Linked DNA regions of Homo sapiens. The protein of the gene in region 4 interacts with the protein of the main gene of each other region in a biochemical or structural test. Each region holds a gene or a part of one and is shown on either strand. Other genes may lie near its edges.

Region 1 (4,282 bases), on a different chromosome or scaffold from region 4:
TTTCTGGGCAGAAGAAAGAGTCATTCAACACTCTACAAAATACTTACTGAGTACCTACTATGTGCCAGAATAAAATGATGAATATTTGGGCTTTGTATTTATATTACAAAACAGAGAGGAAATGTGTCAAAATAATTTCCTTGGGGTTAGTAAGGATTACAACTGAGTATTACTGGTAAACAAGGACTTTAAAAAGTGCTTAAAATTTTCACATTGCATCATTCAAACATCCATACTGTCATGGTTGCAAGATTTTAGACCTAATCAGATTTTTGAGGATGCTGTTTATTGACGCTTAGCAAAAACCAACTTCCTATTTTTTTCTGGAACAAAAAGGCCTTACACAATTTTAGAGATCTCTTGGACATCAAAGAGCTTAGAGGGACATACAGTTTGTGAGTAATGATTTAAGATTTAGTGAATCAAAGACACATGGATTAAATTTCCCTTAAAAGACCCCTAGGTTTAAAATTTAATAGCTAAAATGCTGGTCTAGATACACTCTGGTCCCAATGCTGGTCCCAAGCAAAGCCAAAACCTATTTTTAAAGCTAGGTTGAATTGTCTTATGGACCCAAACCTTGGCTGGGTTTTCCTTTCCCACATGATTAGGCCTCAAAGGAGGCAACCTATCTCTAATAAATTTACCACTTCTCTTTTTCTCTGACTTGCAAAGACCATATTATTTCAAAGGTCTCAGCTTTGAATGTCTTTCTTTACATTTTTAATAAAATATTAAAAATTAGAAATCTTCCACGGTCTTATCAAACAGTTATTCCCCAAGTCATTCTTTTTTAAAAAAAAACATACATTTTCAAATTGGACCTGAGAGTCTAGGTGCTGCCTCAGAATTCCAACTATTAAGGAGTAGGAGACCATTTCAAAACAGGAATAGACCACTGATCTTAATATGTATACTGTATGTGCACTGTTTCATGATATATTATTATATTTGCATTTAAAATAGTAGGAAGAAATACAGTACATAATCTCCCTTTCTAACACAGTGGCCTTCTGGAGGGCTGCTAGCTTGGGCATTTCACTGAGATTTTAGGATTAAAGGAAACAAATTAGTGCACAACCTGTGAGCTTTTATTCCTTTGGAAAAATAGATTTTAACACTGATCTGATTGCTTTTAAAGGGCACTGGAAACCAGGAGGGCAGTGCATGTTTTGAATTTCAATGGCAGGGTAATAACAACGGGTGAAGTTCAGTCATTTCCAGAGACAGAGACAGAGAGAGAGAGAGACAGAGAGAGAGAGAGAGAAAGACAATATTCCAAAGGGGGAGTTTATCCTGAATCAGAGAACTTGGAAATGAAATTGATGCATAAAGCCATGATGGATTCAGGTTTCAGAAAACTACTACTTCAGTTTAAGAATGAAATAACTAGATTACCCTTTAGTTTAGAAACGTACATAGTTTGATGTAAAGTATGTGGGCTGATGAGTTTAGAAAAATAACCACGTGCCAATAGGAACTGACATAAAATATTGGTTTTAAAAAATTTGTTTAGTTAATTTTCTGAGAATTTTAGAAAATAAAATATTTTGTAGAAGCAGTCCTGGGGCTCTCGGGCCATGCATGCTGCTGCAATTGGGACCATCAGGAGCCCAATCTGGCTTGCAGACTTTCTGCCACTGTAAGCTGTATGGTGTTTTAAAGACACTGAGTCAACATTTTAAAATTGGGAGAGTCCTAGCTTCTCTTGAAAATCTGAAAGATACTACCACATGGGCCCATGCCATACACTGAGCCTCACAACAGCTCTAATCACGCCAAGCAGTGACTGCCCCTCTGCTTTTCCTAAGCAGTTTGTCAATCCCTAGTGAAATGGTTAGTTTTCCTCATTTAAGTTACCTGTTTGCAAATCTTGATACAGGATATAAATAGGGGAATAAGGGAAAAGGAAGAAAAGAGGAAGAAAATCCAATGCAGTGACTTAATACTGGAAAGGAAAAGGAAGGAGAGCGAGGGGGAAAGAAAGAAGTGCATAGCAGACAGAAGCTGCACACCATCAGCAACTGCCTCTTGCTGTCTTTAGATTTATACTATGGAAGGGATCAGTGAAAAAAGCCATGGGTATCCTTCTCAACAAATCCCACTGTGACAGGCTCACAGTGTGGAAAATAAGAAGGAAAATTGTCTGAATGGAGCAATATCTCTGATAGAGGATGGAGTATGGGATGGGACCAGGCGGATGCAAAACAAAACAAAACAAAACAAAACAAAAAAACAAAAAAAAAAACAAAACAACACTCTGGGTCTTCTTCTTCCATGTCTCATAAACCAAGAGATGTGGGCCACTCCTGTATCTTCATCTTTAACATGGTAGCTAATGATGGCAGGCACTGTCCAGGTATTTCCCTACAAAAACAGGGGCACTATTCAGGTATCTCCCTCCAAAATCAGGGAGTCTATGGACAGTTGTGCAAGCTGTGAACTGCACAATTTCAGGAAAAACAAGATGAGAATAGCACTCCTGAGAAGTGCTCCTCATATGCGCCTGGCTCACTTCCTTATCTCCTTCAGATTCTAGCCCAAAGCCCACCTTTGAAGACAAGCCTTCCCTGACCTCACTATTGAGTTTTTCAATCACCATCCCACTCTCTCTTATCCTTGACAGTCACTATTCTCTTTTCCATTTTATTCTACCTTGAAGCTATTATCATCACCTGACATACAACACATTTCAGTTATGTATTTCTTTATTGTTTGCCAACTCAATAGAACAGAGTGTCATGAGGTTAGAGGTTTTCATCTGTTTTATACTCTGTGGAAATGCCAGATTTTAGAACTATGCCTCGTAGGTTGTCAAAAAATTGTCCTGAATGAATGACTAAATCCTCATTCACATTCTTGGAGTACAGGAACCTGGCTTTCACGATAACTTGTGATTCTCTAAGCACATTTCATAATTGCTATCCTTAATTATATTAGGAGAGATACATTTTCAAATTCTATTGCCCATTATATAATCGCCTGTGGGCCCTATAGCTACATAATTTATTATAGAAATTAAAATCAATGGGAGTAACCTACATAAACATACTTGCACACATTTATGCAATCACAGAGAGAAATATGTGTACCTGGGTATGTGATTACAAAGTTAACTTTTTTATTTCACTGAGCTCATACCTCCTGCTACAAATGCCACACGTGATTTTTTCTCTCAATTAAGTTTTACAGCTTATAAAAGCACTTTTTTCATTTTGTCCCATGAAAAGCAAAGTAGTCAGATTTTACTGGATGTTTTTATTGAAACAAATCCCAAGCGGAATATACTAACCTGTTTAACACAGCTGAAAAGATATCTGAGAATGGGCTTTCTGATAGAAGGATAGATTACAAAATTATTCACGGCTCTTAATCTGATAACAGGAGCAGAATGCCCCACACATATGAATGAAACCTTTTCTCGGTATGTCTCACTACAAAGAAAAGAAAAAAAGAAAAGAAAAGAAATTAAAAAAAAAAAAGAGAGAGAGAACTGGAGAAAGAGAAGGTGACAAAAACTCCAGGGACTAGATATGTTATATTCATCATTTACCACTATCTTAAGCATCCCTAATGATGCCTCCATGGAAAATGTTTCCAATAGTTGATGGCTGAGGAAAGGTGGTATGGTGCTATTGAAATAGCATGGAGCTAGTCTCAAGCTCAGTTTCCTTGTCTATAACATAAGAATGTTAAGATGTTATCAGACTTGCCTATCTTGTAAGGTCGTTTTGGTATCAGAAAGGTGATGTATGCAGAAACAGCTTGAAAATGTTAAGGTTTTTAAGTTCCAAACTTTGATTTTTAAAAAAAAATTCTATTATTTCATAGCAAATAGGATGATTTTGAAAGCGTTTCTCATGTGATGTCCTCTTAATAATTATGAATTTGTGTTCATTTAATATGTGATATTTGTCTGTGTATCTAGATCATAAACTTCTCAAGGGCAGATTCCATTTCTTTCTTTTAAAGAAAATGCTGTAGTACCTAGCACATATGATACTCTACCTATAGGTCCTAGCTATTTTTGGTCAGGCAAATGTGGATCTAGCAGCAACTCAGTGTCAGTTGAGAACACATCATCAAAGTGATTCTGAACTAACATTAGTCAGTGTATCTATCATTTATTACTGAGAAGTGACTATTTATTTTGCACTGAGCAAAACCCATGAAGAAACTCTGCCCTAAGGGCTTGGTGTCAAAAACACTAGTTTCAGCATACACCAGCCAGGAAAAGAAGGCTCACTTCCGGACACTTGAGTTTCTACATACATTTTCTCCC
Region 2 (4,282 bases), on a different chromosome or scaffold from region 4:
TGACTAGCTATGAGACCTAGGGCTGGTGTCTTGCCTTCTCTGGCCCTCCATCTCCTACTATGTACAATGAGAGCAAGACCATCCCCCAGGAACTGCCTAGCATTGAGGTTCTATGATCCTGTGACCCTGTGAGACGGGATCCCTATGTGGCAAAAGTGGAAGGATTGAGGACAGGCTGAGTAGCAGGCCTGGTCTGGCTGGGGAAGCTGAGGAGGTACAGAGAAGCGTGCTCCCTTGGGAGGGAAGAAACTTTCCAGAGATTAAAGATGGGGCAGAAAGCAGGCAGGACTTAGATGAGATACCAGGAAAGACAGGGAGGTATTGTGGTTGCAGGAGTGTGTTTAGGGAATATCCTGAGTCCAAGGTGGTTTAAGTAATGTCTAGGTTGACCTAAGAGAGTGGCTCTTTCCCCTCACTGGGCAGGAAGGGTGATAGCGGCCGGGGGTAGGGGAGTGGGGGGAGGGGGGCAGCTGGGGGAGCGGTGCAGCTTCCTGGTAGGCCAGGAGCTAATGGATCATCTCTGCACCAGGACGCACCCTCGGCTCTGGGGCCTTTGGGCAGGTGGTGGAGGCCACGGCTCATGGCCTGAGCCATTCTCAGGCCACGATGAAAGTGGCCGTCAAGATGCTTAAATGTGAGTAGTCCTTGGAGCCCTCCACATCTGGGCCTTCACCTCTCCCTGCCCCTCCCCACACACTTAGCCTCTCCCAGGGTGGCCTGATGCTGATTTGCAGGCACTAGAGGGGCCATCACACTGCAGCAGGCACTGCTCCCGAGTCTGGGTCTGGTTTGGGAAAGAGCGTTCCTCTCCCTGGCCTCCTCGGCCTGCTTCCCCCTACCCTGGCCTCTTCCCCTCCTCAGAGTGTGGGTGCTCACCCCCGCCAGGCTGCCTGGGTCTTGCAGCACAGGGCGGGGCAGAAGAGTCAGAATAGGCTCCTGTGGTGGGGCCTCCATGGAGCCTCCATGACTGGGCCTGGCCTGGGGCCCCCATTTTCCTCAGCCACAGCCCGCAGCAGTGAGAAGCAAGCCCTTATGTCGGAGCTGAAGATCATGAGTCACCTTGGGCCCCACCTGAACGTGGTCAACCTGTTGGGGGCCTGCACCAAAGGAGGTACCGAGCCCACTGCCCCAGAGGCCTCAGGGAAAGTGCCCACCACCAAGGCCAGGCCCCGCCTACCCCCCCCTCAGGCCTTGCACAACAGCACACTCCTGCTGGAGGGTCCGTGCCCACCCGCTCCAGCGCCCTCACTGCGCGGTCCCAGAGGGCGGTGGGGTTTAGAAACTCACAAAATCACAACACCTTCAAGGCTGAAGGATTAGTCAGGTCACCAGTCCCAGCAGCTTCCAGACCATGGTGTTGGCTGACACTTTTTTATTTTCCCAATACATTTTGAAAACCAATAAATAACAGCTCACATGACATTAAGATGAGTTATATGCCCACCATTGGAGACCACCAGCTTGCTACTTGGGAGCTACCTTCATTTGATCATAGAAGAAAGTCTCTGTGGCCAACTGGGTCTATTTGAAGCTCTGATTGCCAGTTAGGCTGAAAAAAAATGTTATCACCATTTGCAGCTGCTTATTGTGAGATTTGGGATTTTCCTCAGCATTATGCAACCAAAATAAAATACAGAAGTATGTTGGGTACATAGACTTATTCACGTTTGCAATGATCGCTCATTTCAACATTTTCGTTTGTGTAGATATCTTCAAGTTCTCACTGATTGACTTTAAGTAAATGCATTGTAGTTGAATTTAACTACTAAAGTGATCGTTGTAAACAGTGGCCTTTATCTGCTTTCTATACTGGGCTCCAAAGTAAGCTTTAGTTTGAAAACATATCAATAAGAGCCAACACTGCGAGCTCGCCACGTGCCCAGCCAATAAAGACATCATCTCATTAATCCTCATGACAGTGCTTTGTGGTGGGTTTAATTAGCCCCACTTAACAGCTGGGGAAGGTAAGGCTCAGGGAGACTAAGTACCTTGCTCTCCACCACAGAGGCAGGAAAAGAATCCAGATTTGCAAGGCACTAAAGCCTCCTAGCCGTCATGCCAAAGTGTCTCTCCCACATCCAGCCCCTGATTAGCCTCATGGCCTTGAAGGGACGCCTGAGGCCTCCATAGGGACTGTCCCTGAGCCTGTCCCTCTGCAGGACCCATCTATATCATCACTGAGTACTGCCGCTACGGAGACCTGGTGGACTACCTGCACCGCAACAAACACACCTTCCTGCAGCACCACTCCGACAAGCGCCGCCCGCCCAGCGCGGAGCTCTACAGCAATGCTCTGCCCGTTGGGCTCCCCCTGCCCAGGTACCAGGAGGGAGGCCAGGGACTGAATCTTTGGGATACCTGAGGAGCACCGCTCCTTCCCCTCCTTTTGTCCAGGAGGGGAAGCTGAGGCTGTGACAGGGCAGGGGACAGAATCACTCCTGGAGCTAGGGCTGTTCCACAAGATGGTCCACCCCAGATGAGGGAATAACACTAATGCCAGGCCCTGTGCTGCTAAGCCCTCTACAGATGTGACATGCCATCCCTGTGTCGTGGGTGTTTGCCCTTCAGTCCAGGGCAGGCAGTGATGGAGGAAGGGGCAGAGGCTGTGGTGAGATGAGAGCCAAGCCTCCCAATTTGCACAGTGGTGCTCCAGGCTGTGTTCCTCTCTGCAGCCTCTACACATCAGCCTCCACACTGCCTCTCAGGGAGCTCAACTCCAGTCTTTGTCTTTTCCAAAAAGAACACTTCTTAGTTCTGTTGCTGATTACAAAAACAAAGACAAGAGTAGCTTCAGAAAAGCGTAAAAGACCTTAAAACCCACTCATGTCCTCTCCAATGTTTTGACATTCAGTCTCCCAGGAGCCAAAGGGCTTCTCCCATCTTTTTCCTGCCTATAGAGACAGATGTGTGTAGAGCCCCACAGCTCTTTGGGGAGCTGATGCTACAGGCATAGGTAGCGGGGTGAATCCTGGCTGCCTATGCTGGGTTGCAGTCAGGCACTCCCATGGCCAGGTGGCGCTGGGGAGGCCACAGGAAGGCGCCTCTGAACACACCCGTCTTGTGACCTTTGCCCTGGGGTGCTGTAATCGCCTCTGGGTGTGAGCTCTCTGGGTTCTAACTGTCATTTTGGTAGCCTCAGTGCCCAGCTTGGCCCAGCAGGTTGGTTGAAAAGTCTTGATCCACAGGCTTTCCTACTGGGATAGACTGAAGGAAGATGAGTGAGTGTGTGAGTGAGAGAAGAAATTCATGAGTGGCAAGGGGCAGGAGGGGAGGGGAAGGCAAAGCCTGCAGGCTCTCCTGTGATGCTCCTTTACCCCCAGCCATGTGTCCTTGACCGGGGAGAGCGACGGTGGCTACATGGACATGAGCAAGGACGAGTCGGTGGACTATGTGCCCATGCTGGACATGAAAGGAGACGTCAAATATGCAGACATCGAGTCCTCCAACTACATGGCCCCTTACGATAACTACGTTCCCTCTGGTGGGTGGACATAGTGACATAGTACCCCACATCCAAACAGGCTGATGCTCTTCACATGCCCAGCCTTGCCAAAAACCCTGAGAAGAAGGGAGCCTCGTGCCCATTTCATAGATGTAGAAATTGAGGCTAGCCACCTGGCCAAAACTGATCTGTAGTGGACCCCTAAACGGAAGCCCTGTTTATGGATCCGGAAACATGCGTAGAACCCTCAGGGAGGGAGAGAGCAGGGATATGGGAGGACCTGGCCTTTTGTCGTGGTAGGGAAAGTGATCTACTCAGCTTCAGCCCCAGGCTGGTCTAGTGTCCCTGAGAGGCAGGCAGGCAGGCCAGGCTGGGCAAAAGTGGCCCAAGGGCTAATGCCAAAAGGCCAATGAGGGCACTGATAAAGCAGGAGAACTTTGAGTTTGATATTAAGAAATCATTCTCCTTTTAGGGGAGACCTAGACGATCAGTAGCCACCTGTCTTGGACATTCAGTCTCCCAGGAGCCAAAGGGCAGGGGTCCTGTGGGCCAGAAGGAGATATAAGATAGCAGGTGACCCTCTGCTTCTCCTCTAGCCCCTGAGAGGACCTGCCGAGCAACTTTGATCAACGAGTCTCCAGTGCTAAGCTACATGGACCTCGTGGGCTTCAGCTACCAGGTGGCCAATGGCATGGAGTTTCTGGCCTCCAAGAACGTACGTGTGGTGTTGGTGGGGCAGAGTGGGGGCTGTGGGGAGGTGGGTCACCCAGCCAGCCAGCATCCTCCAAGAGCACACCAGGGTGGCCTCTCGCACATGGGCAGTGTTGTATTTTCCCAAAG
Region 3 (4,282 bases), on a different chromosome or scaffold from region 4:
TACATCTGTAACCCCAGCATTTTGGGAGGCTGAGGCTGGGGGATCGCTTGAGCTCATAAGTTCGAGACTATTCTCTACAAAAATAGAAATAAAAAAATTAGCCGGTGTGGTGGCACACGCCTGGGGTCCCAGCTACTCAGGAGGCTGAGATGAGAGGATCACTTGAGTTCAGGAGGTGGAGGCTGCGGTGAACTATGATCGTGCCACTGCACTCCAGCCTGGCAACAGAGCAAGACCCTGTCTCATAAATAAATAAATAAATAAATAAATAAATAAATAAATAAATAATAAAAACAGACTCTCCCTTAGTCTTGGTTGCCCACAGCAAGGGAGTGTCCAAGTTTTAAGGCAGGGCTTGGCCTCTCGCTTCGTCAGACTATTGGAACAGGCTGGGGAGTATGTCTAATTGGACAGAATGGTGGAACAGGCAGCCCTGGACTAGTATGCAAAGCCTGGGGGGCCACTCCTGGGTCAAGTCCACCTTAGCCTTGACTTCAAAGCATTCTTCATAACCTAGACCAAACTCAGCACTAAATACACATTCCCTCCATGCTCCTTGAGGCTAGTAAGAGGAGTCTTACCTTCCCAGCCAATTCCCTACCCCCAGCCATCATACCAATAGAAAGGTTTGATAATCCTGAAGTAAGATCCTAATGCCTTGTTCCTTGTACTGTAGTTTTTTTCAGCTGAAGCCACAACTACACTGCCCTCTTCCTTTAAGGTTCAGAAATTAATCTCAAATATTATCTCCTATGTGGATGCTCTTACTGATTCCTGATCTCTATTACCTGCCCATCAAGATTTAAGCTCATCTCCTTGAAAATCCTGCCCAGAGCACTTTACACTTAAGAAAACCAAATTCTACTTCGAATCAGGGGCTGTGCTCTTGCCCTGGCCCTCCTCCACCCCCAGCCTGTAACGTAGGACCAAGGCATGGGGATTGATAAGCCTTTGTTAAACTGAATCCAAAATGTTTACTGACCATTTATGTTCAAAGCTTAGTGTAAGTGCTGGAGAATAGAAAAGATGTTAAACTAATACTTACTGAACACTAACCGCTGTGTCTAGCCTGGGGCAATGGACAAGTTCAGCTTGGTCCTTGAACTCCTAGTGAAAGCAGTCATGGAAAAGCTCCTTGACTGCTTTCATGGACCCTAGGTGAACTACATGTACTTATTCACCTACAGAAAATGGCCATTTGCAGACATTCCCCCAACCTAAACTTTTATCAAGAAATTTGTATCTCTTTTGGTGGAAAGTAACCCAAGAATACGGCTAAACAAAGAGCCAAGCAGATAAACATGCATTACCACTAATTAACAACTTCATCTTAATACGAAAAAAAAAAACCACTCTACATATTCTGTTTACACGTTTTCAATTTTTTTCTAAGAGGCAAAGCTGAAAGGGGAACATAAGAAAATCAGCCTGATAGTGGAGTCCACACACTTCCTCTATGCGGGGCACTATGCTAAGCATATTACATGCAGAATCTCATTTAATCCTCGCAGGGGCCCTATGTCATCATCTCCATTTTACAGATGAGGAAATGAAGCTTAAGGAGAGGTTAAGTGTCTTGTCCCAGAGCACACAGCAGGGAAGAGGCAGAACTGGAATAAAAATCCAGCGTGTCAATTTCAGAGCCCAAGCTCGTAATTAACTGATGCCACATGTCCTGAATAATAATTTGGCTTAAACCTTAAATTTTGCAAAAATGTTGAAAACCTGTCAGAAAGGTATGCATGGGAAGATGTCTAACAAAAGTGTGTCATAACCAAAATGTAAGCATGAAAGCTAAAACATAAGATGAATGGGAAAAGTACCAGACACAAATGTTATGTTGGAGAATCTTACAAGATGTGTAGTTTTTTTTTTTCCCCCCTGGAGAAAAAAAAAGTTCAAGATCTATTCAATCTCTAGGACTAGTGATTTCCTAACTCTTATCAAAAGCTAAATAAAACAAGACCAAAAAAATTAAAGCTTATTTTTAAAACTGTCGGCCAGGCATGGTGGCTCATGCCTGTAATCCTAGCACTTTGGGAGGCCGAGGCAGGTAGATCACCTGAGGTCAGGGGTTCGAGACCAGCCAGGCCAACATGGTGAAACCCCATCTCTACTAAAAGTACAAAAATTAGCCGAGCATGGTGGCGGGTGCCTGTAATCCCAGCTACTCAGGAGGCTGAGGCAGGAGAATCGCTTGAACCCAGGAGGTGGAGGTTGCAGTGAGACGAGATTGCGCCATTGCACTCCAGCCTGGGCAACAGGGCAAGATACTGTCTTTAAAACAAACAAAAAAAATGCCTTTCTAATCTTTAGGGCAATCATCTTAAAAGAGTAGGCATTATTCCCATTTTAGGGACAATAATAATTCCTGTTTTACAGACGATAATTATGGCTAACACATATTGAGCCTGTACTATGAGGCACCACTCTAAAAGTTTTACATGTAGCAACACATTTACTGGCACAGAGAGGTTAAGTAATCTGCCGAAAGTCACAGAGCTAATAAGTGGCAAAACTAGGATGGACAATGAAAGCTCAAAAAGGTTAAACAATTTGCTCTAAGGCCATCAAGCTGTCAGTCATGAAGCCATCAGACCAACACAAGGTAGGCCGGCCTGTCTCCTCCCACTTGTCATCTGCCTGGTCCCAGGGGCATATTTGGATTCCTGCACTCACCAGGGCCCAGTGGGGAATGCCTAAGGGATGGCAGGATAAAGCCCTAGAGCCTAATGCAACCTGAAGAGCACAGGCCTCATCTACAGGGGCCATGACCTTCAATTCTTAAAGAGGAGACAGAAATAGAGATCTTGATTTAAAAAAAATCTCTAGATTGTTTAATATCGCCTCAATGTTTTCTAAAAAGCATCATGTAGGCCAAAGAAAACATGTCTCCTCGGGCTATCAGATTACAACTGCTCTTTACTTATTAAGAGTCTTAGGTCAAAAGATGAGCTGTATGATCACATCCAAAAAATGTCAGAAATCAGAGCTGCTGGGCCAAGCCGACTCAACTCAATTCCTCTCTATGACTCAACTCAATTCCTCTCTAAGTACAACAAAGATTTACACTGGATTTGCCCTCCAGGCAAACTTTTACCTCCTCTAACTCTTCCCCAGGCCTTCTTCAATCCGGACTTATAGCTGTGGCAATATCTATTCAAGTTACCAAAACTGCACATGAAATTTGCATATTTGGATTCCTGCAAATGTCATTCAATCTCAACTTTTAAAAGTTACCGCACATTAATGCAGCAAAAGAAAGCATTTCCCACATCCTAGCCTGCCAACTCTTAAACTACATTCATTCTGAAGAAAAAGCTGCCACAGCCTTGACCACTACCTTGAAGGGGTCCCCACACTGCAGGCCAGCTCTGAGAATTCCGCTAGAGACACCGAGGTTCATTTCCTCGTGTCCTTCTTTAATCAGCTGGAAGAGACTTGAGGAAATGAGTCAAAACCCTAAGGGTAACTTCGAAGGGCTGTCAACAACAGCAGCAAAATTCATCACCACCACAACATCTGTACATAAATGTTCTCCAAGGGAAGCCCGCAGAATACTTGGCACATTTCTGATGAGAATTTCTTTTGGGAGAAAAAATGGCTTTGGATGGTAGATTGTCATTATTTCTCACCATGCTATCCAGGGTAAATAGCCAATGACATCAGCCATTATTGGGGGTGTTCTCTTTCACACCTATGCACAAGACCATTTTTATGTTTTGGAGTGGGAGATGGATTTTTAACTGGCTTGCATCATCCTTTTAGAAACAGCTTACCTTCATTTCTGAGGGACGCTAACTGGAATGAGATAGCTAACAACTAAGCCAACATACCACAGGGTCAAATGCCTACAGCCCTTCCTCCAAGCTAAAATTTAATTAATCCTCCCTCCACAAATAATCCGCTTTCATAAGACACGCAATTCTAAATATTTTTCACCAAAATTGGGAAGGTAGTGACATTGGCCATCCTGTATTCCCAGAACTTCCAACAATCCCTGGCACATAGTAAAAACTCATTAAATATTTTTGAATGAGTCTTACAACAGATTCTGGTGAATCATGTGAATGGCTATAGAGCTGGGCACATGCAGCCAATCTCATCAGGCTTCACCACTGATGATTTAGGGCTTATCCTTAGCCAGTTTCTCCAGCTGTAAAATGTTAGGGGTAATAATAGTACTACTTCCTAGGCTCATTGAGACTACTAGAAATAGGTAAAGCCCCAAGCAAAAGGCCTGGCACACAGTTTCCAACTGAAGAGCAACAACTATGTACAC
Region 4 (4,282 bases):
AAGTATTAATAAGGGGCCTTTGCTATTCTCAAACCTGAGAACTCTCTTAAAAAAAAATTGCAATAGTGATGGGGTCTTGCTATGTTGACCAGGCTGGTCTCAAACTACTGGCCTCAAGTGATCTTCCCATCTTAGCCTTCCAAAGTGCTGGGATTATAGGTGTGAGCCACCATGCCTGGCCAGAGAGCTCTCTTTATTTTGCCAGCACTGTATCCAAGATCCTTTTTCACCATCTAGTGGCTTTTTTTTTTTTTCCTTCTTGAGACAGGCTGGCTCCATCGCCCAGGCTGGAATGCAGTGATGCGATCTTAGCTTACTGCACCCTCAGCCTCCTGGGCTCAAGCCATCCTCCCACCTCAGCCTCCTGAGTAGCTGGGATTACGGGAATATGCCACCATGCCCGGCTAAGTGTTTTTTTATGGTTTTTTTTTGTTTGTTTTGTTTTTTGTTTTTTTTTTGTAGACTGGGTTTCGCCATGTTGCCCCGGCTGGTCCTGAACTCTTGAGCTCAGGAGATACACCCACCTTGGCCTCCCAAAGTGCTAGGATTACAGGCGTGAGCCACCACACCTGGCCTAGTGGCTGAATTTTTAAAATAGTTTTCTGCATTAGTAAATAACTTAGTCTTGTAGAAAAGCATCTATTGCTCACCTATCCCAGTGTACTTATAAATAGGGACCCATTTTATAAAGCCTGCTTTATTCCGCATCTTGATGAGTGCTCTACAGTGACATATCATTAGTGGCTTTCTAAGGTGTTAGTGATTATCAGAAGATACTACCATATTTGTCAGCACTTACTTAACTCTGCCTATAACACAAAACCAAGAATAGAGTGTTCATGACCATTTTCCTCACCATCTGAATGGAATCACATTAGGGTTCTCTTTCCCACAGAGATCTTGCAGCTCGTAACTGCCTAGTGGGAGAAAACCATGTGGTAAAAGTGGCTGACTTTGGCTTAAGTAGATTGATGACTGGAGACACTTATACTGCTCATGCTGGAGCCAAATTTCCTATTAAGTGGACAGCACCAGAGAGTCTTGCCTACAATACCTTCTCAATTAAATCTGACGTCTGGGGTAAGGTTGAAAGGGACTTTTTTCTGTGTCATTTTATTTTTTTTTTTATAAATGCCTTGATTCTTTAGAGCTTCTCTTACGATGTTCAGTATCCTCTACCTTTACCTGCCATTCTTCTTCAGTTATTCAGCAAGCATTTGTTAAATACCTCCTATCTGCCAGGACTGTGTTAAGAACTTTGCATAAACAGAAGTATAGGCCTGGTGTGGTGGCTCACGTTTGTAATTACAGCACTTTGGGCCGAGATGGGTGGATCACTTGAGGTCAAGAGTTCGAGACCAGCCTGGCCAACATGGTGAACTCCCATCTCTACTAACTACAAAAATTAGCCAGGCGTGGTGGCATGCGCCAGTAATCCCAGCTATTCAAGAGGCTGAAGGCTGAGGCAGGGGAGTTGCTTGAGCCTGGAGGGCAGAGGTTGCAGTGAGCCAAGATGGCGCCACTGCACTCCAGCCTGGGCAATAGAGCGAGACTCTGTCTAAAAAGAAAAAAAAAAAAAAAAGTATAAAGAAGAAAGTTTAGGGCCAGGCACAGTGGCTCATGCCTGTAATCCCAGCACTTTGGGAGGCCGAGGCAGGTGGACAACCTGAGGTCAGGAGTTTGAGACCAGCCTGACCAACATGGAAAAACCCTGTGTCTACTAAAAATACAAAATTAGCTGGGTGTGGTGATGCATGCCTGTAATCCCAGCTACTTGGGAGGCTGAGGTAGGAGAATCACTTGAACCCGGGAGGTGGAGGTTGCGGTGAGCTGAGATCACACCATTGTACTCCAGCCTGGGCAACAAGAACAAAACTCTGTCTCAAACAAAAAAAAAAAAGAAAGAAGAAAGTTTTAAAAAAGAAGTCCCTGCCTTCAGAGAGCTCACAGTCTAGATCTCTTATTGCATTGGAGTGCTAATGATCCTCCCTCTGTAAAGCATCCTATTTCCACATTAGGTTTTTTGTTTTTATTTTTGAGACAGAGCCTTGCTCTGTTGTCCAGGCTGGAGTGCAGTGGCACAATCTCAGCTCACTGCAACCTCCCATCTCCCGGGTTCAAGCGATTCTCCTGCCTCAGCCTCCAGAGTTGCTGGGACTACAGGCATGCATCACCATGCCCGGCTAATTTTTGTCATAGTAGTAGAGATGAGGTTTTGCCATGTTGGCCAGGCTGGTCTCGAACTCCTGACCTCAAATGATCCACCTGCCTTGGCCTCCCAAAGTGTTGGGATTACAGGCATGAGCCACTGTGCTCAGCCTCACATTAGGTTTTATCACTCATTTGCAGAGTACTGTGACACAGAGCTTTTTTTTTTTTCGAGGGAAGTGTGATGAGGTTTCCTCTAGAATTTGTCCTAATTGATCTGGTTTCTACTGCTCTGAGAGGTAATATGATTTGGTTGAAGCTTAGTAGACTGAACAATCTGGAAATTTGGATTGTGGACCAATAGAAATAGTCATAGGATTCTAAGTCATTTTTTACTGGAAATCTCAAACTCAAATAACTGAGACAAAATCAAACAAATTTTTTTCTGCTCTGAATTTTATCTGATTTTAAATGAATCCATTTTTATTTTACTCCTCTTGTATTAGCTGACTTTAAAACTGTTATGCTTCTTAGATACAGTGGTTCTCCTTTATCCTCAGGAGAATACATTCTAAGACCCCCCCCTTGGATGCCTGAAACCAAGGATAGTGTCAAGCCCTGGATATATAATCTTTTTTTGATCTGATAACCGAGAGGTCTTCTCAGTGACTAAGGGGTGGGTAGCATCTACGGTGTGGATATGTTGAGTAAAAGGATGATTTATGTGCGAGGCGGGAAGGAGAAGCATGGCTTGAGAGTTCATCATGCAACTCAAGGCAGCATGCAATTTAAAACTTTAGAATTGTTTATTTCTGGAATTTTCTATTTAATATTTTTGGACCTTGGTTGACTGTGAGTAGCTGAAACTGTGGGAAGTGAAACCATGGATAAGGGGTGACTACTGTATATCAAAAACTTTTCTAAGAATAGTTGGATTATGCCTCAGACTTCTTAAATGGTCATAGTTTATTTTCCCTCATTACAGTAAAGGAAATCTAAATAAAAATTGGGAAATTTAAATAAAACTGTCTTGAGATTATCTGCAGCATTCCTGTTGCAAATATTTTAGAAGGACAAATCATGCTGTAAGAATTGATAAAAGAGTATATTATATATTAATGTTGTTGTAACAGTGTGTGAATGTTACCTAAAATATGAAAGAGAATCACCTAATTATGTAAAATAAATAATCGGAGAAGAAACACTAAGTGCTTTTTTTAATTCCTTATGCAGCTTTTGGGGTATTGTTGTGGGAAATTGCTACCTATGGAATGTCACCATATCCAGGTATTGACCTGTCTCAGGTCTATGACCTACTAGAAAAAGGATATCGAATGGAACAGCCTGAGGGATGCCCCCCTAAGGTTTATGAACTTATGAGAGCATGTGAGTATTTTTGCATGTTTTAATTTTGAAGGCATAAGCTAGCAGTTCAGAATAGTTAACAAAATTAGAAACATTTCTCCTCTCAGTGTTGTTAGATTGAATCCAGCCTCATGACATTTAAAGAGTTTATCATTGATCAGCCAGTTGTCATATCATATACCATTGAATCTTATTGGAATCCTAAGCATAGTTGTTATGGCCCAAATATTGACCCAGTTTCTCAGAGACATTTGCATATTTAATAAGATAAGAAATTGAGTTTAGAGATTAAGGTGGGGAGGGCCGTTTTCAACTAGATAAAAATGATTGCTAAAGACTATGAAGAATGCATAAAAATAACCTCTGTGTAGATAAACAGAAGCATCCGATTGCTTGCAGATGAAAAAGTAGGAAAGTGAATAGTGGATTAAATTGCAGGGTTTTGTTTGTTTGTTTATTTGTGTTGTTGTTTTTCAAACACTCTTGCTTTGTTGCCCAGGCTGGAGTGCAGTGACGTGATTTCGGCTCAGTGACGTGATTTCGGCTCACTGAAACCTCTACCTCATGGGTTCAAGTGATTCTCATGCCTCAGCCCCTCAGTAGCTGGAACCACAGGCACGCACACCATGCCCAGCTAATTTTTTTTTTTTTGAGACGGACTCTCACTATGTTGCCCATGCTGGAGTGCAGTGGCACAATCTTTGCAACCTCCGTCCCCCAGGTTCAAGCGATTCTCCTGCCTCAGCCTCCCAAGTTGCTGGGATTACAG

Evidence for each region.
Region 1: the proteins of ABL2 (region 4) and MET form a complex in vitro, tested with the Homo sapiens proteins (one large-scale study listed by BioGRID and IntAct).
Region 2: of the proteins of ABL2 (region 4) and PDGFRB, one has a biochemical effect on the other in vitro, tested with the Homo sapiens proteins (one study listed by BioGRID).
Region 3: the proteins of ABL2 (region 4) and KIT form a complex in vitro, tested with the Homo sapiens proteins (one large-scale study listed by BioGRID and IntAct).

Annotation. Positions count from the first base shown.
Region 1 is NC_000007.14:116,674,955-116,679,236, reverse strand, and holds part of MET (hepatocyte growth factor receptor isoform b preproprotein), read right to left. Parts: intron 1-4,282. UniProt on the Homo sapiens protein: Receptor tyrosine kinase that transduces signals from the extracellular matrix into the cytoplasm by binding to hepatocyte growth factor/HGF ligand. Regulates many physiological processes including proliferation, scattering, morphogenesis and survival.
Region 2 is NC_000005.10:150,121,079-150,125,360, reverse strand, and holds part of PDGFRB (platelet-derived growth factor receptor beta isoform 1 precursor), read left to right. Parts: intron 1-529; coding exon 530-634; intron 635-1,000; coding exon 1,001-1,111; intron 1,112-2,159; coding exon 2,160-2,319; intron 2,320-3,320; coding exon 3,321-3,481; intron 3,482-4,038; coding exon 4,039-4,157; intron 4,158-4,282. UniProt on the Homo sapiens protein: Tyrosine-protein kinase that acts as a cell-surface receptor for homodimeric PDGFB and PDGFD and for heterodimers formed by PDGFA and PDGFB, and plays an essential role in the regulation of embryonic development, cell proliferation, survival, differentiation, chemotaxis and migration.
Region 3 is NC_000004.12:54,660,589-54,664,870, reverse strand, and holds part of KIT (mast/stem cell growth factor receptor Kit isoform 1 precursor), read right to left. Parts: intron 1-4,282. UniProt on the Homo sapiens protein: Tyrosine-protein kinase that acts as a cell-surface receptor for the cytokine KITLG/SCF and plays an essential role in the regulation of cell survival and proliferation, hematopoiesis, stem cell maintenance, gametogenesis, mast cell development, migration and function, and in melanogenesis.
Region 4 is NC_000001.11:179,114,130-179,118,411, reverse strand, and holds part of ABL2 (tyrosine-protein kinase ABL2), read left to right. Parts: intron 1-895; coding exon 896-1,080; intron 1,081-3,381; coding exon 3,382-3,534; intron 3,535-4,282. UniProt on the Homo sapiens protein: Non-receptor tyrosine-protein kinase that plays an ABL1-overlapping role in key processes linked to cell growth and survival such as cytoskeleton remodeling in response to extracellular stimuli, cell motility and adhesion and receptor endocytosis.